Linked DNA regions of Homo sapiens. The protein of the gene in region 6 purifies or fractionates together with the protein of the main gene of each other region. This does not show direct contact. Each region holds a gene or a part of one and is shown on either strand. Other genes may lie near its edges.

Region 1 (3,502 bases), on a different chromosome or scaffold from region 6:
GTTTAAATCAACAAGATTCAAAATCGGCTTTCATCCAACCAGATACAGGTAAGTGGTTTCAGTGGCTGAGAGGCTCCCTGAAAAACCCTCTGCTGTAAGTAGAGTGTGGTAGTGAAGAGAAAAACAGTCTGGATTGTCTATGCAGTCGACCAAGATCCAACTATAAATGGACTTCCCATCAAGTTAGCAAAAATCATCCACTGTAAACTGTCGACAAATGTCAGTTCTAATTCCACTGTAGAGGTTTTTCCCTAGGTTGATGAAAGGCAAGAGAATGAACTAAGGAGCCAGCTGTGAATTCTTGATTGTTCTACTGTTGACTGATTTAGGTCACTCTAATGAGGTTTCCTTTCCACTGTTCAAGTTCATCCTATGGCAGCTTTGTCACTCAAAAGTTTCAGGGGAAAGGGGGGAAAATGAGTTCTTACAGTTCTGCTACTAAAAATTTTACAATTGTTATGTGAAAACTGAGTGCAATAACTCAAAGAGTATAACTGGACTGCTTGTAACACAATGGATATACGCTTGAGGAAATGGGTACCCTATTTTCCATAGTGTGATAGCTCACATTGCATGCCTGTATCAAAACATCTCATGTACCCCATATACACCTACTATGTACCCACAAAAATCAAAACACACACACACACACACACTTTGGGAGGCTGAAGCGAGCAGATCACTTGAGGCCAGGAGTTTGGGACAGGCCTGGCCAACATGGCAAAACTCTGTCTCTACTAAAAAAACACAAAAAATTAGCCAGGCATGGTGGTGCACACCTGTAATCCCAGTTATTCAGGAGGCTTGAGGCACAAGAATCGCTTGAACCATGGAGATGGAGGTTGCAGTGGGCCAAGATTGCACCACTGCACTCTAGCCTGGGCGACAGTGTGAGACTCTGTCTCAAAACATGCTGAATGACTAGTGTCATAATAAATGTAAATTGCCTTACTTTTTGAAAACAGACAGCTTTGTAAAATGGTACAACGGTTTGGAAAACAGTCTAGCAACTTCTTAAAAAGTTAAACATAATTACTATATAACCTACACGATTCCACAAATCTAAGAAACATGAAAATGTATGGTCACATAGAAACTTGTCCATGAATGTTCACAGCAGCATTATTCAGAACAGCCAAACAGTGCAAACCACTCAAATGTAAAACTGATGAAACGAGAAGCTATATAAAATATGAAATATGGCATATAGGTATACAATGGAATACTACTTGGTAATCAAAAGGGATGAAATGTACTGATGAATGCTACCACATGGAACCTTAAAAGTATAAAGTAAAAGAAGCCAGTCACAAAAGGCCACAAACTATATGATTCCATTATATAAAATGTCCAGGCTGGGCGGGGTTGCTCATGCCTGTAATCCTAGTACTTTGGGAGGCTAAGGTGGGTGGATCACGAGGTCAGGAGTCTGAGACCAGCCTGACCAATGTGTTTAAACACCATCTCTACTAAAAATACAAAAAAATTAGCTGGGTGTGGTGGCATGTGCCTGCAATCCCAGCTACTCAGGAGGCTGAGACAGGAGAATCCCTTGAATCTGGGAGGCGGAGCTTGCAGTGAGCCGAGATCATACCACTGCACTCCAGCCTGGGAGACAGAGCGAGACTCCGTCTAAAAAAAAAATAAAAAAATAAAAATAAAAAAATAAAAATAAAAGAAGTACAGCACAAGCATATCTATGGAAAGAAAATATAGTGGTTGCCTAGAATGAGACAGGTAAGTGGGAGGGATGGGGGACTGACTGCTAATGGGTACGGGGAAAGAATTCTGGAGCGATGAAAATGTTCTGGGTTTGACTTCTTACCTCTGTATGGAATTTGTTGTCACACAAATACAATGACGTATTAATTGGTTTGAAAGGTTCAAAGTCAATGTTGACTTTCTTTTCCTTTCCTTCTTCTGTTACAATTGTTCCACAGTATACAACCAGACCATTTGGAGGTACTGCAAAGAACACAAACAATTTTTCTACTTTACCCCATATCTAGTTTTTCGTCAATTAATAGAAAATGTTCCCATAGCCTATTTTCCCTGCCTGATCCTTTAAGTCATAATTTAAATAAAGCAGAAAAAGCTTGAAATCTCTCAGGCAGAACTCTCTCCCTAATTTTAAAACTTCTTCTGAGACGTTTCAGTACGATTTATTCTTTAAAGTAAACAGGCTGGACGTGGTGGTGGCTCACGCCTGTAATCCCAGCACTCTGGGAGGCCGAGGTAGGCGGATCACCTGACGTCAGGAATTCAAGACCAACCTGGCCAACATGGTGAAACCCCATCTCTACGAAAAATACAAAAAGTAGCCAGGCGTGGTGATGGGCACCTGTAGTCCCAGCTACTCGAGAGGCTGAGACGGAAGAATCACTTCAACCTGGGAGGCTTGTGGTGAGCTGAGATCGGATTACTGCACTTCAGTCTCTGGGTGACAGAGCAAGACTCTGTCTCATCCCAAAAAAAAAAAAAAAAAAAAAAATTGAGACAACGCCTCACTCTGTCACTCAGGCTAGTGTGCAGCAGCGAGATCGTGGCTCACTGCAACTCCCACCTCCCGGGTCCAGTTGATTCTCTCGCCTCAGCCTCCAGAGTAGATGGGACTACAGGTGTGTGCCACCAGGCCTGGCTAACTTTTGTATTTTTTGTAGAGACAGGGTTTCACACCATGTTGTCCAGGCTGGTCTCGAACTCCTGACCTCAAGTGATCCACCTGCCTCAGCTTCCCAAAGTGCTGGGATTACAGGCATGAGCCACTGTGCCTGGCCTACTTAACTTTCAATAAACAAAAAACAAAACAAAACAAAAAAGCTAACCACCAAGGCCAAAGAGACACTGATGACAGCCGACTTAAGGGAACATTAGTGAACAAAGCACCATAGCAGCATCACAGTATAAAACATAACCAAAATGTGTAGAGAAGGAAAAGGAGCAAACTCCAGATTACCTTTGTTATAAAGTTTGAGTCTTTGTTGTACAGATGTAATGGCTCCCAGGACTGAAAGGCGGTTTACTCGTGACTTAATGTTAGATGCAGTTCCAAACTCATCCGCTAACATTTTTGCCACTCGTGAAATCTGGTCTTTGGGAGGAATGATCAATGATATCATGCTGGTGCCATTGCTGTGGAAGAAAGAATAACTCATTAGGGATTTAAATATCATGTAAGTAAACTCATGTTTCTCTCTGGTAAAAGCAAGCTACAGGGAGATGCCCCAAAGTTATGGAAACAGGTCACTCTCAAAGGAGTAATGTAGGGACTATATTAGTCTTGTTTATGAACGTATACACAGAGTTAGGAACAGTGTTCAGAATCTAGTGCTCAATTTGATTGAATAGTGAGGTAAGTTATGTAAAGAATACACTTGGAGAGATACTTGAGAAACACCTCATTTCCTAAAGAAAGAAGCTATCTATGATAAATAAGGAGTGTCAACAGGCTGGAATTTGGTAGTGAATCTGTCCGTGGGAGAGCCTTCAAATGTGGTGGTTG
Region 2 (3,502 bases), on a different chromosome or scaffold from region 6:
ATTCAACTCCTATTCCTAAAAATAAAATTCTACTTCCACTAGAAAACAAAGAATGACTAAATGCATAAACAAGACAAAGAAAACCACATGAGACCTAAAATCTTTTTAGCTTAACACATTTTTCATCTTCCACATTCATTACCACCATTCTTGGCTTCTAATAATCACTTATGTCATTAATAATAATCACCCATATCATCAATCACTGGTGGTCTTGCTTTATGAACAAATGGTGTTCAATCCTGCATAGTTATTTGGAAACTGGAATTCACCTTCCCCTAGAACAATGTCATGAGTGCTAATGTACTTCCCTGGCCAGCTCACTAGGATCCTCTCAACTCACAACGCAGGTGCCTTTCATACTACTAACACTAATTCAAATATGTGATGTCTACCTTTGGCATCTGCCAATCTGCTTTCTGTAACACCCTCTTTCCACACTTAGGTGCCTCAAACTTCTCAACAGTGCTACTGCCCAAGCCTTAAAATGACTTACTCTCGGGCCAGGCGCGGTGGATCACGCCTGTAAACCCAGCACTTTGGGAGGCCGAGGCCGGCGGATCATGAGGTCAGGAGATCGAGACCATCCTGGCTAACATGGTGAAACCCTGTCTCTACTAAAAATACAAAAAATTAGCCGGGCGTGGTGGCAGGTGCCTGTAGTCCCAGCTACTTGGGAGGCTGAAGCGGGAGAATGGCATGAACCCGGGAGGTGGAGCTTGCAGTGAGCCGAGATGGTGCCACTGCACTCCAGCCTGGGCGACAGAGAGAGACTCCATCTCAAAAAACAAAAACAAAACAAAAAAAAACTTACTCTTCCTTCTTCCTTCCTCACTCCTCCTCTCAGCCAAACTCCAATTCTCTCACTGTGATTCTCAGCAAAGAAAGGAGCAAGATGAATTCATGAACTTATGATGAAGTGTACTGATAAGAGATGTCAAATATTCTGCCACAAAGTGGGAAACTGATGGAATCTGTGAATCCCTTTCTGCGTTACCATTAACTCCTGAAATGTGGTACTACCAAGTCAGTTAAATTTAGATACAAGAATTCAGAAAGCAACTCCTGGCACTTCAGTTGAACGCTACCATCCATCAAATGCTTCTTAAAAAAGACCTGCAAATCTGCTGTAAGCTTTCCATAGCCCACAAGTACGTAGGACAAAATCCTTTAGAATGACATTAACCATTGCACAATTATTGCGTTTTGTGAAAACAAATCAAAATACACAGTAACCAAAGTAAATCTGTATTTGATAGGCTTCTAAGCACTTTAACAGATGAAAAGTAAAAAACAGGCTGTATGGAAGAAGATATTCCATAGATTAAAGCAGTCATTTAAGGCAAATGGCCCAGTGTATCTAGGGATGTGCTCCTGGGGTCAGTGAGTTCAGGATGTGGCTACCTCACAGTGTTCACACTTCTACTACTTGCAAACTCTAAGTCGTCAGAATCCTCAACTCAGAATCCCCAATGTCACCAACACGTTTGAATGGCCGCAAGACCACATGTATGCTATCCAGATTCCTTTGTTCAGTGATAGAAAACTGGCAACTGGAGTCCTAGAATGAATGGGCATCCCTGGCACTCCTAGTGCTTGTAAACTGAAGATTGCTTTTCGCAACTGCAGCACCAAACTCTCCTCGGGACTGAGGAGTACATGTTTTCTATTTATAGTCCCTCAGAATTAAATATGAAAAAGAAAAGGAAGTGATCAGATATTAAGTATTAAATTTCCCCAAGGGGAAATTCACATAAAAATAATCCCCACCAGTGAATCAGCTAATCAGAGTACCAAAGAATGAGACAAAGAGAGAGAGAGAGAGAGAAGATTTTGATATTTAATATCTAAAAAAGAGGAATTGGAAATTGTCATTATAGGAAAAAATCAGAACTACATAGGTCTCCTTTACAATTATTCTTTGGGTTAAACTTTTTTCTTTGAATTAAATGTGGGCTGGGAATGAGGGGGAAGAACCATAATCTCTTCAGTGCTTATGACTTCTAAAGTGTTACAACCGTGTGCACACACATATACAATCCACCTTAATATTTATGCCTTTTATTTTAAATTCTGAATTTAAATTTTATATTGGGAGTCGTTTTGATTCTTGAAAAATGCGTTTTGAGCTGATTAGAGCTTCCCAATTAAAACGGTACAACTGAATATATTATATGGGCATGACATTTATAAGCAAATTCTATTTTTTCACATCATATTAACTTTAATACTGGATTGTTACACAGAACATGATATATTTTAAAATGAGAGTTAGTATTGTTCGATAATAGAATGACCAAGGCACAGAAGGCAGATTCTGCCTGACGAGGCTGATAACAAGACCCTTTACACATCCAACGTGAACAAAGCAGCAGCTCATCTCAGTAGCAGTCTGCTTTTCTTTTGTGAGCATAGTTTGAAACACATACATTAAAAACAGTATCAATTTTTATGCGGCTATGGTGGGGGGAGGAATCAGCATATCGTGTTAGCAATTTTCTGTGGAATCACATTAGTGTTTCATTGTGGTAGCCGTATCACATTAAAATCTGTTTTTCTACTAAATGGCTTCCATTGTGTATTTAGTGAATCTGATATGGAAAACTGCTAATGCAATAAGAGTATCATAGAAGCTTTTCCTGACTGTAATGCTCAGCCACAATGTTCAGGAGAAGGAGGCTCTCAACTGGGCTGAGGGGATTTCAGGCCTCTGAACTAGTCCTCAGCTCAGATTCAACACCAGCTTCTTGAAAGATGGACTTTATCCTATGGGTGAAATGCTTTTACAGACTTTATTTCAGGAGGGACCATGGGTTCAGTGAAAAAATGTGTCATGTATTTGTTATTTATTGATAGAGTACTATAAAGGGCACTGTGGTCAGCATTCAGAGAATAAAAAAGGTAGATGAAACAGTCCCTTCCTTCCTGGATCTTGTAAGGATGGTCTGAGGGGAAGAAATAAATTAGTCTATGAGTAACTTAATACAAAACAGGTAAGAGTTGAAAAGGCGAAGAGCCACAGGAGCTCGAAGGAGGACATACCTGGGACCAGGGTCATCACAGAAAGTCCCGTGAAGGCAGCGCCTGAACAGGGCATACAAGATGAAGAAGTCATATTTGAGGATCCTGTGGGAGGTGGGGAAGCTGGGAAGGCCTCAGCGTGGGGTAAAGGTGCACAGGAGAGGAAAGCCAGGGTATGCATGGAAACTAGCATTTGCTATTTTAACTGCAGCATAAAATAGGGAAAGACCGGGAAGATAAGCCTGGAAAAGTGGTCTTGGGTCAGCCTAACACAAAAGGAAGCCGACACCAAAGGAGAGCAGAATACAAGTCAGGCAAGTGCGGCCGAGGTGTCCGTCATGGTTTTGGGGTAGGAAGTGTCAGGATGAAGACCACCAAGCAAGAAGAACATCCAGTTTTCATGGGTATAATGACTCCTAATGCTAACAGATATCTTGAAATCCTAACAACTTTAGTTGACACAAGTTTCTTAAGAGACAAA
Region 3 (3,502 bases), on a different chromosome or scaffold from region 6:
ATCTCCTGGGCTCAGGTGATCCTTCTACCTCAGCCTCCTGAGTAGCTGGAACCACATGTGTATGCCACTACACCTGGATAGGTTATTATTTTTTATTTTGTACAGATGAGGTTCCCTATGTTTCCCAGGCTGGTCTCGAACTCCTGGGCTCAAGCGATCCGATCCTTCCACTTTGGCCTCCTAAACTGCTGGAATTACAGGTGTGAGCCACTGGGCCTGGCCATGATGGTCATTTTTATGTGGCAACTTGACTGGGCCATGGGGTGCCCAGACATTTGGCCAAACCCTATTCTGGGAGTGTCTATGAGGGTGTTCTGGATGAGATGAACATTGGGGTTTGTAGACTGAGCAAGGCAGATTATTCTCCTTAATGTGGGTGGGTCTCATTCAATCAACTCAAGATGTGAATAGAATAAAAAGCTAAGTAACCAGAAGCTCCTCCTCCCTGACTGCTTGAGCTAGAACATTGGTCTTTTCCTGCCTTTGGACTTGAACTGAAACAACCCCTCTTCTTGGGTCTCAGGCCTGCTGGCCTTTGGATTGGAACTTACATCATTGGCTCTCCTAGGTCTCCAGATTGCAAACTGAAGAATCTCAGGACTGCTTAGCTTCCATTATCAATAAGCCAATTCCTTATAATAAATCTCTACACACACACACACACGCACACACACACACACCCTGCCAGTTCTGTTTCTCTGAAGATTCCTAATGCTTAGTTCCAGGATTTTCATCTGGGATTGCTTTTCCCCAGTTCTCAGTCCACGCAGTTCAGGTCTGTTTCTGCCAGGGCTGCTAAGCTTTGGGGATTTAAGCCTAATTTGCTGGTGGCAATTTTGTCACCATGAGGAATAAGTCTGCCTGACAACGAGCAGTGCAGAAGCATGAGGAGTCCAGAGATGGGAGAGCCGGCTTCCCAATGACAGGGTTTGAGCTCCTGGATCCTGCCGTGCCCGAGACAGTGCAGTCCTGGATTGCTCCATTCTGTGGACTAATACATTGCACACAGTCCCTTTTGGTTTTTGGCTTAAGGCATGTAAAGTTGGGTTTCTGTCATTTGTAATTGTAAGAGCAATTAGAAGTTACTTTAAAATACTATTTAATCAGTATCCCGCTTAAGGTGTTTCCCATTTCACTATTACAATCAGTGTTGCCAGGAACATCTTGTACACTTATCTTTGAACAATCCTATGAATATATAGGTAGGACACCTTCCTAAGACAGGAACTTGTGGATCAAAAAACAGGTGCATTTTGGCCGGGCACGGTGGCTCAGGCCTGTAATCCCAGCACCTTGGGAGGCAAAGGCGGGCGGATCACCTGAGGTCAGGAGTTCGAGGCCAGCCTGACCAACATGGAGAAACCCCATCTCTACTAAAAATACAAAATTAGCTAGGCGTAGTGGCGCATGCCTGTAATCCCAGCTACTCAGGAGGCTGACAGAGAATCGCTTGAACCCAGGAGGTGGAGGTTGTGATGAGCCGAGATCGTGCCATTGCACTCCAGCCTGGGCAACAAGAGTGAAACTCCATCTCAAAACAAAATCAAAGACAAAAAACAGGTGCATTTAAAACTGTGACTGTTATTGCCTTCCAAAAGGGTTTCCCAATTCATGCTTCCAACAGTATATGAAGAATTCCTACTTCCTTATATCCTTATCAGCAATGAATATTATTATCATGCTTAATTTTGTTCAAAGGGTGAAAATAGTATCTTGTTTTAAGTTACATCTCTATAGTTACTAAGGAGGTTGAATATCTTTTCATATTATTTAGCTAGCCTGTGGATTTCTTTTTTTAAGAATTGCTTTTCTTATCCTTTGTCCATTTTCCTACTAAGTTGCTTATCTTATTTATTTGAAGGAGCTCTTTATATATGATGGACAGCAATCCTTTGTCTGTAATAAGCACTATGAAATAAATAGAGATTTGGAGACAGATGGGAACCTGAGCCCAGAGATCTTCCAGAGTGGGCAGGAGCTGGCTCTTACCTGACTCTGGTCCTCTGGATCCACAAAGATATTTTCAGCTGTCACATTTCCATGAACATACTCATTCTCATGGAGGAACTCCAGGGCATCCAGCTGGGGGAAGAAGCAAGTCAGTGTCTGCATGAGCAGTACGACTAACACAGAGAGGCTATGGTGCAGACCAGGAGGGAGCCCCACTATTAAGGCCTGGGGTTGTCCGACACTGTGACTGGGGGTTAAACCTGACTAAATCCGGGGTAGCATGAGGAGCCCGCTGTGACAGCACATTGAGCACGCCTCTAATCAGGCTCTCAGGAAGCTCATCAATTGAGCTAAAGCGTGGCTTCCTATCTACTCCTGTATTTCTCTCTTAGCTGATGACAAACTCAGCAGAGGGAAAAGGGGTTAATGTCTCTCTGCAAAAATGACTCAGCACCTGTGGATATCAAAGAGCTCTTCTCACCTGTCCTAGAGAGCAGAAATAAATCTTGTTAAGCAATTTATATCTTGATCTCCAGCTCCAGCTGTCCCTATGAGCTCCAGACTCTTTTTTTGCTGTGTGTATATATATATTTTTGAGACAGGGTCTTACTCCTGTTGCCCAGGCTGGAGTGCAGTGGTACAATCACTGCTCACTGTAGCCTTGATTTCCCAAGCTCAGGTGATCCTCCCACCTCAGCCTCACAAGTAGCTGGGACTACAGGTGGGTGCCACCACACCCGGCTAATTTTTTGTATTTTTATTAGAGAGGGCATTTTGCCATGTTGCCCAGGCTGGTCTTGAACTCCTGAGCTCAAGTGATCCACCTGCCTCGTCCTCCCAAAGTGCTGGGATTACTGGCATGAGCTGCTGCGCCCGGCCAATTCTTTGATTGTGTCTGCTGCCTGAGTGTCAGCTACATTCTGATCATATCCCCAACCCTCTTTGACCCCAGGGCTCTACTGTCCACCAAATTCTGCTCGTTCTCCTCCTATAGACTCTCCACCCCCGGGGCCCGGGACCCTCCTCAGCCTTGTCCTCTCCCACATGGACCCTCACTCAGATTCTTCTCCCCATTCCAGTCCCTCCCCATATGGCCCCTGAGGGCCTTTCTGTACCCAGAGCTGACCCCGCCCTCCCCTAATCCCAGCACTCTTGTGGCTCTCCAGTGCCCTCAAGACAGATCCCAGCCCCTCAGCCTGCTGTGCGAGGCCCCGTGTGATGTGGTCACCGCTGACCTCTCCAGACCAACTCCATCTCTTCCGCACTGCAGTGCCATACTGCAGATACTGAACATAAAGACCTTAGGACTCAGCATGTCGCTCCCTTGGTACGTCCATCCCTCCAGCGATGCAAACTGGGCCCTCTTACTCTCAATCACAGCAGGGGCCGCTTCTATTCAGAGCACTTGTCATAGTTTGTGCAACTGTTTGATTCACTATTGGCCCCTCCCACTAGACTGTGAGCTCTAAGACACAGAAACCATGTTTATGCTGCTCCCTGCTCTGCACCCAGCCCCGGGGACAGCGTCTGGCACCCAGCAAGTGCCTGATGA
Region 4 (3,502 bases), on a different chromosome or scaffold from region 6:
TCAGATTAAAAATTACTTATTGAGGCTGGACATGGTGGCTCATGCCTGTAATCCCAGCACTTTGGGAGGCCGAGGCGAGGCGGACTGCTTGAGCCCGGGAGTTCGAGGCCAGCCTGGGCAACAAAGTGAGACCTCTTCTCTACAAAAGAAAAATTTAAAAGTGAGGCAGGAGGATTGTTTGAGCCCAGGAGGTCACGACTGCAATAAGCTGTCATCGTGCCACTGCACTCCCACCTGAACGACAGGAGTGAGACCCTGTCTCAAAAAAAAAAAAAAAAAAACTACTTCGTGATCTGGATATGTACAAACAAGACTAGAAGAGAAGACATAGAGAAGAAATTCTGATTTATAAACTTCTGTGCAACTGTACAATATATTACTTTATAATGTATTGATTTTTTAAAAACTATTCTTCTCACAAAGTTGATTATTAAAATGAAAAAAAGCAAGCTACCAAATAGTAAAGTACCTTCCTATTTGTTTAATATACACACCCACCATGCACATATAACTATATGCATACACAACATGAACACAAATATTAACAAAGTCTGGAAAATATATAGGGTTAATTAACACCTATTGATTCCGGATAGGTGGGACTGGGAAATTATGTACATTTGTTTTCTTCTGTTTGCTTGCTTACATTTTTATATTTTCAATAATGAAGATATGATTGCTTACATAATAAGGAAAAAGTTAATTTTCACTTAAATGTTAAGGCCAGGTGCGGTGGGTTATACCTGTAATCCCACTGCTTTGGGAGACCTAGGTGGGAGGACCACACAAGGCCAGGAATTAGAGACCAGTCCGGGCAACACAGCAAGAACCCATCTCCACAAAAAATTTATTAATAAAAAATTAGCTGGGTGTGGTGGCTCACACCTGTAGTTGTAGCTACTCAGGAGGCTAAGGCAGAAGGATTGCTTGAGCCCAGGAGGTCGAGGCTGCAGTAAGCCATGACTGCGCCATTGCACTTCAGCCTGGGTGACACAGTGAGCCCCTGACTCAAAAACAAAACAAAACAACTTTAAATAGAAGCTCATTGTGGCAGTGTACATAACAGGAAAAAACTTTAAACAACCTAAATATCCTTTAACAAATGGGGAACAAATAATTTCAGTTCTAAGATGGAATACTATAAAACAGTTTAAATGAAATAACTACAAATATGTAGCTATAGATACTTCAATAAGACTAGATAGATCTAAACACATTTGTGGAGTAAACAAGCAAGTGGTAGAACAATAATAATACAATAATCACATAAATGTTTTAAAACACAACAATCTAGAATACTGGTAATACGTATCAGTGATATAATATATATCCTGAAAAGAGACAGGAAAACTATACACACCAAATATCTGTTACCAGTTAGAACAAAAGAGGAGAGAGGAATTAAACTGGAGAGTGGTACAAAGGAAATTTCAATTATGCTTATTAACATTTCAGCTCTTTTAAGAGAAAAAGGGAAAGAACTTCAGGTGCAGGCATTTGTCAGTGGTGGCAGGATCGCACGTTTGTCATACTTATTCTCTTCTTTTTCTAGATTTTAAAATTTTTTCTTCACACAAAAAAATCGTATTTCACATGTTCAAGTGTATTTTAAAATTAAAAATACCATGGTCAGGCGCAGTGGCTCACGCCTGTAATCCCAGTACTTTGGGAGGCCGAGGTGGGCAGATCACCTGAGGTCGGGAGTTTGAGACCAGCCTGACCAACATGGAGAAACCCCGTCTCTAGTAAAAATACAAAAATTAGCCGGGTGTGGTGGCGGGCACCTGTAATCCCGGCTACTTGGGAGGCTGAGGCAGGAGAATCGCTTGAACTGGGGAGGCAGAGGTCGCAGTGAGCCGAGATAGTACCATTGCATTCCAGCCTGGACAACAGAGCAAGACTCTGTCTTGAAAAAAAAAAAAAATTAAAAATACCAAACCATAGTTTCTTAAACAGCATATACATACAAGGAGTTGTAACACTGCACATCTCAACTGTACAAGAAACATGTGAAGCCTGTTTCCCATTTGGCTGAACTGTCACACGCTCTTCACCTGTCACCAAGTCACATGGCACACCCTAGAAAGACAGAAAAAAAACTAGAATTATTGAAAATAATGCAAAAATACGTTTTGGATATTTAACAGGGTGTTCTCTCCACTACCACCAAATTAGTTTGTTTCACAGTTAAAACATAATGTTCCCACGGCCAGACACGGTGGCTCATGCCTGTAATCCCAGCACTTTGGGAGGCTGAGGTGGGCAGATCACAAGGTCAAGAGATAGAGACCATCCTGGCCAACATGATGAAATCCCATCTCTACCAAAAACAGAAAAAGTAGCTGGGAGTGGTGTTGCACACCTGTGGTCCCAGCTACTCGGGAGGCTGAGGCAGGGGAATCACTTGAACTGAGAGATGGAGGTTCAGTGAGCCGAGATCATGCCACTGCACTCCAGCCTGGAGACAGAGCAAGACTGTCTCAAAAAAAAAAAAAAAAAAATTCCCAATGCTTTTTTCCCTTTTATAAAAAATAAAGTAAAATAAGAGCCACTCTCTTACACAACTTGGGTAAACCTGGAAACATCTCAAATCAGCTAAATCCTCAGGTAACAAAAGCATGAGACACTGCAGCAGTTTCACATTTTAACTTTGTACATCTCTGAACTATTTGACTTCATTAAAATGAGTTGTTTCTATATTCAAGAAGAACATTATAAATACAATTTAAGAATGTAAAGACCTCCTATTATAATTCCCTGAGAGGGACCAACATTAATGCTGTATCAGGGTGATCAACCATTCTGGTTTGTCTAGGACTAATGGGTTCCCCAGAATGGAGGACTCTTGGTGCTAAATCTGGAGAAGTCCAGGCAAACTGGGATGGCTGGTCATCATAATAGCCTGAATCTAATCATGGGGAAACACCAGACACATCCAAACTGAGAGACAGTTCACAACACAACTGACCTATAGTCTTCCAAAATGTACAGGTTATGAAAGACAAAGGAAGACTGAGGAACTGTCCAAGATTAATGGAAACTAGAGATATGACAACTAAATACAGTGTAAGACCCTGAAAAGAACCCTGGAGGGGTGGAGGATGGGGTGTAATTGGACAATTGATAAAATTTGAATATAGATTGTGTATTAAGTAAGAGTAATCTATCAATATTAAATGTCCTGCTTCAGACAAATATCCTGTGGTTACGTAAAAGTCTGTTCTGAGGAAACATATTCTCAAGTATTTACAGATAAAGAGGTATTATGTATGTAAATTGCTCAAACTGTTCAGAAAAAAAAAAAGAGAATGCAAATTACCTACCAAAACTGGTTAAACTCACATTATAAAGTCATAATAAAACAATGAACCAAAATGTAGCCCATTTAGTGAAAATGATGCCTCAGACTACAGGGCTTCAGTCCTTTCAGTTTTGAAAAGGTAGCTTCAGTCTTTATCATTAGCTCTAGCTGATAGCATCAGAGGTCTAATCTATAAAAGGT
Region 5 (4,155 bases), on a different chromosome or scaffold from region 6:
TACTAGTAATATTAAAATTTACATAAAGACAAAGAATATATATGAAATAGATTTTTTTAGATGGTATTTCAACTTAAGTAACTGTATTAAGAAATGAAAAACTGGTATTTTACTGCCTAGTTTTCAAAACACTAAAATCTTTAATTTGACCAAGTTACAAATCTGTTTTCAGTAGAGGGAGAAAACACACTGCCTCCGTTCAATGCAAAGGACAAAAAAGATCATCACTGCAAATCATAATGTTTGGGTTCATGATGAAAACAGGAAACAGACAGGCTGCCCAGGTATAATTATGGTTGTAATCTAATGTGCCTTCAGGTTCAGCCAAGAATTAAAACCCAGTGAAGAGGGTAAGCAGAATTTACTTGCCTCTACTTTGCTGCAGAATGCAACTTTTAATAATACTCCCAGCAACATGTTACATAACCAACAGTAAACAACAATCTGATTCAAACCTCATTAGTAACAACATTCTGCCACTGTCTCCCACTGAAATTAATAGCTGACTTTGCCAGAGGGGAAAGAAATCCAACACATTATCAATCTACCCATTTCTGTGGCGCCTACCACAGTGAACCAGACACGCAGATAATACTACCAGATCTGTACAGAACCTACGAAAATATTTTATTCTTTTTTTCCAGTTTGCTGCTCTCTTCCTCCTTTTAACTAGACCATATCATGTGGATGCCTTTAAAACCTGAGAGTAAAGTCAGTTGAGAAGGTTAATCTAACTTTTCTTGCTTATTTCAGCTATGATCTGAAAGGAATGGAAGCACAAAATGATGAATAAGGTATTTTTAACAAAGATACATGGGTAAATTAACAGCAGTAATGTAAAAAAGACTGAGGGAGCAACAATGTGGAAAGGGAAGGAAAGGAAGCTGTATAGGAACAATCACACAAATAATCATCAAAATTAAACTTTATAAATCTAAACATAGTATCTACAACCTTTATGAAGGTTAAGTTTTGTTAAATTGTCTAAGTTTTGCATTTTTACAATTTTCACTGTAGAGAAAAAAATATTAATAGTTACCAAAGGAATAAAAGACTAAAATAATTTGTTATACATCTGCAAATAGCTCCTTAAATTTGGAACACTAATTTCATAATGATATTTGGATCCATAAATGTGAAACTGTCACACTGAATGTAGGTACTGTTTTCCCCACAATGGATACTACTGCATTGGCATCTAGCAGAAATTGTAAGCTATTTGGAATGTTACTAAACCTACTGGGACTAAGGTTTTCAATCTTTTGTCTTTCAAATTAAAATTAAAAACTAATTCACTCTGGGCAATTCAGGTACTCTAAGGAAATTCAAGTACTCTAGTTTTAAATACGAATTTTCAAAAACGCAACCCAAGTACCCTTTCCTCTCAACTTCTGTGAGGCCAAGCCACGACCTCCACCTATTCAATCTTTGCTGCTAGATAACAACCCTTTTGGTAGTGCTAGGCAACAGGCATGATGTGACAAACCTAGACATCAAAACTTTTCCACAGAAAGATAAGGTAAACAAGATATACTTAGCGCCACACCCATTTAAATGCACAAGCAACCAAAATTGCTCCCTCCCCCCGCAACACCCCCCCCCCCCCCCCAAAGCTCCAGCTGGTCAGGAAACATTGTCTTTACAATCAAGATAAACATCTGGCTCAGGGTGTTCAGCCATTCCTCACCTACAGGCTTGCCTAAGCCCCATTCTCCAATGCCATCACCACCAGAACCGGAACATTCTGTTGGGAAGCCGGCAAACGTCCAAATACCCCAAGTATCCTCGCCCGAGTTCTGCAACCAAAAATCTGTTTTGGCTACTGAGCATGCTCAGACTTAAGACGGGCGCGCCACATGGGAGTTTTCAAAGCTTAGGCTCCAAACTCCACGTAGTAACAGCAGCTGAAAGGAGGAGAGGGGAAAAGGGGAGGGGAAGAGACTGGAATATTAATTTGAGCCCTGATATTGAAGTATAGGACCCGGCCAGCGGCTGAATATGGTGAAGGCAAAAAGACGCTGCTTTGGCATTCTCTTTGCAGCACAGAGAAGTTTACATGAAGTAGAAGAAATCCTTGCAGTGGTGAAAACTGACATGGCAAGTGGCAGAAACCAGGTCTAACTACCAGCTGATTGCAGTAGCCGGTCACAACTGCCCAGAGTGTAATTCCCACCGATAAGCGCGGATCCTTATCTTTGAAACACAAAGCGACGGCGGCACGGATTCATCAAGCCATTGGACAGCTTCGCAGTGCAGCAGCCCAGGCTGCCCGGCCGAGCACCGCAGTCCTATCAAGGGTGTGTATCCAGGGTGGTACATCCGATGAGTTAGGAAAGCAAACCGCTCCCCAGGACAGCGCGGGGTCAGGGGGTCCCCTCCAGGGCGTCCCAGACGCCTCCCTCCAAAGTCTGGGCGGTAACAGCGGGGCTGGGACGAGGGCCAGCCCCGGCCCCGCCTCAGGACGCCCCGGGCAGCCAGCGAGGCCTCCGCAGCCGCTGGGCCGCACCGTGTCCGCCAGCCGGGACCCCGGCAGGCCAGGACTCGGCCTACCTCCCGCCCGACAGGCCCTGGGTCGTTTCCGCTCCGTCCGCGGCCGAACGCCCCCGCCTCGGCCCGAGTCCGCCGGGGCAGAGCCTGCAGCCCCCAGTTCCCCTCGCCCGCGCGCGCCGGGGACCCTCACTCACTCGCGAGCCGGCTAGGCGCGCTCTCCCGACGCCGTCGCTGCGCTTCTCCTCGCTGCAACTTTATTAGCAGCTCGGCCGCGGGACACGCGCACGGCGCCCGCTCGCCCAGGACCCGGATGAGGGAGGGAGGGAGAGGGAGCCCGGGAGGACGCCCGCTGGGGTCGGCGCATGCGCGCCAGAGGCGGAGTGACCGCTGCGGGACCGAGGGAGGGGTGTCTTGCCCGGGCGGCTGAAAGAAGCCTCCGCGCCGGGCTCCGCGCCGGCCAACGCCGACTTCCGATCAGCTGGAGGCCTTCGCGTCGATGGCCAGGCCTGGGAATGGGAATCAGATAGCTCCCACCACCACCACAGTAGGCGCTAGAAGCTTCCACTAACCAAATCAGTATACATTGTAATAAAATTAAGTAATTGTCCTTGACACAGACAACTGGAGGTTTTCTGTCACATACAAAGTGTAAACAAAAACATCTTCAGATACGACTTAGCTACTTTTATTGATCTGTAATACAAATCTGAATGAAGAGTCTTCTTTCTGTGCAAAGTAGCTTCAAAACATGTTTCTGAGCATCTTACAGCTTCTTACTAGATGCAGCACTAAAACCCCTCCCACGGGGCAATCCTGGAACCCTTGAGGGCCTGTGGAAATGGAGCGAGTGCCCACCCTGGAGTTCCAGGAGTGGGACTGCCCATACACTGGATCGCAACCCCAGTTGTTCAAGACACATAGCCTCTCCACCTCCTTGTGGGGAGGGAGATCCCGTGGGGACCCAGCCCCTGGACAGGCGGGGCCACTGAGTTGCAGAGACACCATCCATAGGCTTATATACACCACCCCATCTCCTGGACTCTCTTTTCTAAGTAATTGGAGCTCTTCTCGATGCTTTTTCCTCCAAATTTCCAAAACCGTCAGTATTTCCTAGAATATAATATTGGTACCACATAGGGTACCCGATTTGAATAGTACTAGTAAGAAAAAGCTTTTGAATAATTTTGTTTTTATTTGAAAAGGTCAATACTGGCTCTCCAATGTTCTATTATAGGTTTTCTTTTTAAAATAAGTAAAAATCAAAATCGGGGTCATTTTGGAATGCTCTTTGACACCCTAATCCAATCCATCAGAAATTCTACTGACTCTTTCTTCAAAATTTATCCTAAATCTGACCATTTCTCACACCTCAATTGCCACCTCCATGGCCCGAGCCAGGGTCATCTCATCTGACACACAAATGGCGCAGCCACTATTTTGCTCCAGGCTCTAGAAGTTTATTTCTGTGGAGAAGAAACTAAATAAATGTCCAGAAGTCTCTGCATTAGGGGTGGCCATCTGAAATGGTGACAGAGGGCTAGTAAAGGAGTGAAGGGGAAGTGGGGGAAGAGACCAGAGAGTGAGTGTCTAGTTCCAGAGACCAAAGGGGTCACTGCTATTTCATTCCAGCCAACTGTTACCATAGGGAAATGTGGGAATAAGGAC
Region 6 (3,502 bases):
TAAACACTTTTCCTTCCTTTCCTCTTGCCCTCCCTCCCTCCCTTCTTCCTCCTTCCTTTTTTTCCTTCCTTCCTTCTTTCCTTCCCTCCCTCACTCCCTCCCTTCCTCCCTTCCTCCCTCCCTCCCTCCGTTCCTCCCTGCCTCTCTCTTTGCCTCCCTCCTTCCCTTCCTTCAACAAGTATATAGTGAACACCTCCTGTACACGAGGCACTAGTGCTAAGCACTGTTTTCAAGCTCAAGAGATGTATTTGCTAGTGAATTTCTTTCCTAATTAGTTTTTAAAATATGCAGTACATTGAAGAGCCTGGAGTACAGAACTTCTTAGAGAAAGAAATAATTATATTTCCCATTTAACATTTCTCCTAATCTTCATGGACTTGCTTCTAAATATATCATAAAATTAAGTGTACAGTTTTGAATCTGAAGTTTAAAACATAAAAATATTAATGAGGGCAAACAAGGGAGAAATGACACTTTTAATGAGATATGATTGTTGTAAATATTCGCATAATAGTGCTGGTAACAGTCTGAAATTTCAGTTCTTACCAATGAGAATTCCGACCATATCTCCCTTTTCTCTCTTGATGTGAGCAATAAATAGTGAGAATTAGTTATGCCTCTGTTATACATGGGTTTGTAGTATAAAGCCAAATTCTATTCTGGCAAAGGAAAACCAAATATACACTTCTACAGTATTGCATATGTTAAAACAAAACAAGCCTCCTGAATGTTTTGTTTGTCTTTTTTGAAAAATAATATCCTGAAGAGCATTAAACACAGGAAAACAATATTAAAGCTGATGTTTTCCAATATGTAAAAATCCTGGATCTAAGCTGGTTTACAAACTAAAACCCTAACTTGTTTTGCAGCCTTTGTGGAGTTTGATTAGAATGATTAAATAATGTGGGTTTTAAAGAACAATGAAAACCTCCCAGATTGACGCCACACAGCACAGCTAATGTGTTTCTTCTAGATGTAGTCTCAGAAGAGGGTTTCAGTTTACATGTAACACTGGCCTGAACGACCAAGGAGCAAGTTTGCTTTTAACAAGTCCGAGTGATAATCGTGATATTTTGCCCTTTAGTTAATGGTGCAAATTTTATTTCTCAATAGGCTTTTTGTAAATGAGATGCTCATTTAAAAGTCATCTTATTTGCAGGGCTTTTTCTGTTTTTGAGAGATTTGCTTTCTCTGATTTTGAAATACAGTGAAACTCTTTCAGAAAAAAAACCTCTCTCTTCAATAGATTTTAGATACACCCAGATCACATCATGGCCCCTGAAACATAACAACCGTGCAGAAAAAGCCTGGTGTAGCACTGTTAACTTCTAAGGTCAATAGGCTCCTTCTCCCACCCTGACTTCACACCCCCTTTTCAATAAAAAGGATTTCTATTTTCCATGTTTGTGTAATTTACTACTGGGTTAACTGTGCAATCTTACAGTTGCTTCCAAAGATTAAGTCAGATGCTGCTTCTGTGCTAGAGAACTCCACACTCATGTATAACTCACTATGCAATAGCCAAAGGGATCCTTAAAAGCCTCATTCTAAAGGTGACAGATGGGTGTGAAGGAATACTTGCATTGACCAAGGCTTCTGTGAGAGGAAACTAACTTGAAGAAAAACTCCCTTTCTGGGAGGCAGAGGCGGGCGGATTACGAGGTCAGGAGATCGAGACCATCCTGGCTAACATGGTGAAACCCCGTCTCTACTAAAAATACAAAAAATTAGCCGGGTGTGGTGGCAGGCGCCTGTAGTCCCAGCTACTTGAGAGGCTGAGGCAGGAGAATGGAGTGAACCCGGGAGGCGCAGCTTGCAGTGAGCAGAGACCGCGTCACTGCACTCCAGCCTGGGCGACAGAGCGAGACTCCGTCTCAAAAAGAAAAAAAAAAAAAAAGAAAAACTCCCTTTAAGGGTTCCATCTAGTTAGGAGTGAAAGAACACTTATGGAGCACCTCATGGGAGGCAGGAACTTCTAAGTACTTCTAGGAATGATGTCTCACAGGAGGAGTCATCTCCATTGCACGGATGAAACCAAATTGAGGTCTTCAAGGACCTGCCCAAAGTCATAAAGCTAAAATGGAAGAGCAGGAATTGGAATCTAAGCGTTCCAAGGTAGAGTCTGTGATCTTCTCAGGGCACCTCCCTCTCCATGAGGCAATGCTCTGAAGAGGGTATTATTTACTTGACACTCTGGGCTTTCGCTAAATTCATGCCCTTGGGACTGAAGGTAAGACAATGCCACTAACCTCTGACAACAAATGATTCCTTTGTGGAGCCATTCAAAAGTGATAATAAACAATGATTCAGAGTGTCCAAATCAGATGGTTAGATAGAACCCCTAAAGGCTACCAGGTTTTCTTTTGTCCTGGGAAATTAACTGAATCAGTGACAATTTTAGTTTCCTAAAGTATTTTTTTATGGTAGCAAATGCTTGTATACTACCGGGTAGTAGCATTGTTAAGAGGCTAGGAGCACAGTCTTTACAGTTAGACAAAACTGGGTTCAAATCCCAGGTCTGCCACTTACCTGCTTTGTTTGTGACCTTGAGCCAGTTGTATACCTAACCTATCTAAGACTTAGTTGTTCATCTACAAAATAAGAGGAATAATAATACCCACTTTATAAGGCTGCTGTAAGGATTAACGTAACACATGTGACTGACAATCGAGTGCCTGGGATATTTTAAATGCTCAATATTTGTGAGTTAACATTACAGTCATATAGAGTTTGCGTTAATTCATGGGACCTGTTGGATAGTAATGCCAGATCAGGGAGATACTATTTGGTGAGAAATGTTGTGGCTTATTTTATCTCTCATCTACCTGTCTGTCTATCTGCCTATCCATCTATCTGTTTGTCAACTATCATGTAAAGCTATTTGTTTTTACCAGGCAGATTGAAGAGAAAAAGAGGAAAGTTTCATTTGGCAGTGTAGACAGTCAATATCACTGTACCAAGTACCCCCACCGGCTGCTAACTCAGATAACAAAAGTAAAATGTGGAACAAGGTATCCTGGTTCAAGTTACCTGTATTTGTGTGTTAATATAGCCATGGATGATTCTTATACATGAAACAATATGTACTAAGTTTTCTTTATCCTAAAAAGCAGGAACACGTTTTTATAGATGTATGTGATATGTGTGTGTATTGGTGTGTTGTTGTGTATGAAGATTGGACTAGGGCTGACAAAAACGGAAAAACTAATTGCTTTATAAATAATGTTAACAACTGTGATATCAGAAAAATCTTCTGTGAAGTAAAGCAATGAAATAAACTCTCAAGATAGAAATGTATTCATGTTAAGTGTGGGATTATGGTTAATAAAGTACATTTTTAATTAATCATTATTTCTAGGCACATATAGTTTTAATCACTGGGACAAACTGATGATTTCTGCCTGCTTTTTTTTCCTCTGCTTTAGGTGAACTGATTGACAGGTGATTGTTTCAGGCAAGGAACATTAAATTAAACATGTAGAAGTGTGCAAATATTTGTTAT

What was found.
Region 1: the proteins of HMGA2 (region 6) and ETF1 fractionate together in Homo sapiens (co-fractionation; one large-scale study listed by BioGRID). This does not show direct contact.
Region 2: the proteins of HMGA2 (region 6) and SMAD9 purify together in Homo sapiens (affinity purification with western blotting, with the first as the bait; one study listed by BioGRID). This does not show direct contact.
Region 3: the proteins of HMGA2 (region 6) and VRK3 purify together in Homo sapiens (affinity purification with mass spectrometry; one large-scale study listed by BioGRID and IntAct). This does not show direct contact.
Region 4: the proteins of HMGA2 (region 6) and SUPV3L1 purify together in Homo sapiens (affinity purification with mass spectrometry; one large-scale study listed by BioGRID and IntAct). This does not show direct contact.
Region 5: the proteins of HMGA2 (region 6) and SMAD5 purify together in Homo sapiens (affinity purification with western blotting, with the first as the bait; one study listed by BioGRID). This does not show direct contact.

The regions. Positions count from the first base shown.
Region 1 is NC_000005.10:138,515,736-138,519,237, forward strand, and holds part of ETF1 (eukaryotic peptide chain release factor subunit 1), read right to left. Parts: intron 3,133-3,502; coding exon 2,957-3,132; intron 1,966-2,956; coding exon 1,826-1,965; intron 1-1,825. UniProt on the Homo sapiens protein: Component of the eRF1-eRF3-GTP ternary complex, a ternary complex that mediates translation termination in response to the termination codons. The eRF1-eRF3-GTP complex binds to a stop codon in the ribosomal A-site.
Region 2 is NC_000013.11:36,913,737-36,917,238, forward strand, and holds part of SMAD9 (mothers against decapentaplegic homolog 9), read right to left. Parts: exon of another isoform or gene 3,043-3,502; intron 1-3,042. UniProt on the Homo sapiens protein: Transcriptional modulator activated by BMP (bone morphogenetic proteins) type 1 receptor kinase. SMAD9 is a receptor-regulated SMAD (R-SMAD).
Region 3 is NC_000019.10:49,990,871-49,994,372, forward strand, and holds part of VRK3 (serine/threonine-protein kinase VRK3), read right to left. Parts: intron 2,083-3,502; coding exon 1,990-2,082; intron 1-1,989. UniProt on the Homo sapiens protein: Plays a role in the regulation of the cell cycle by phosphorylating the nuclear envelope protein barrier-to-autointegration factor/BAF that is required for disassembly and reassembly, respectively, of the nuclear envelope during mitosis.
Region 4 is NC_000010.11:69,190,232-69,193,733, reverse strand, and holds part of SUPV3L1 (ATP-dependent RNA helicase SUPV3L1, mitochondrial), read right to left. Parts: intron 2,080-3,502; coding exon 1,968-2,079; intron 1-1,967. UniProt on the Homo sapiens protein: Major helicase player in mitochondrial RNA metabolism. Component of the mitochondrial degradosome (mtEXO) complex, that degrades 3' overhang double-stranded RNA with a 3'-to-5' directionality in an ATP-dependent manner.
Region 5 is NC_000005.10:136,131,492-136,135,646, reverse strand, and holds the start of SMAD5 (mothers against decapentaplegic homolog 5), read right to left. Parts: upstream 2,803-4,155; 5' UTR 2,685-2,802; exon of another isoform or gene 757-2,684; intron 1-756. UniProt on the Homo sapiens protein: Transcriptional regulator that plays a role in various cellular processes including embryonic development, cell differentiation, angiogenesis and tissue homeostasis.
Region 6 is NC_000012.12:65,834,483-65,837,984, forward strand, and holds part of HMGA2 (high mobility group protein HMGI-C), read left to right. Parts: intron 1-3,502.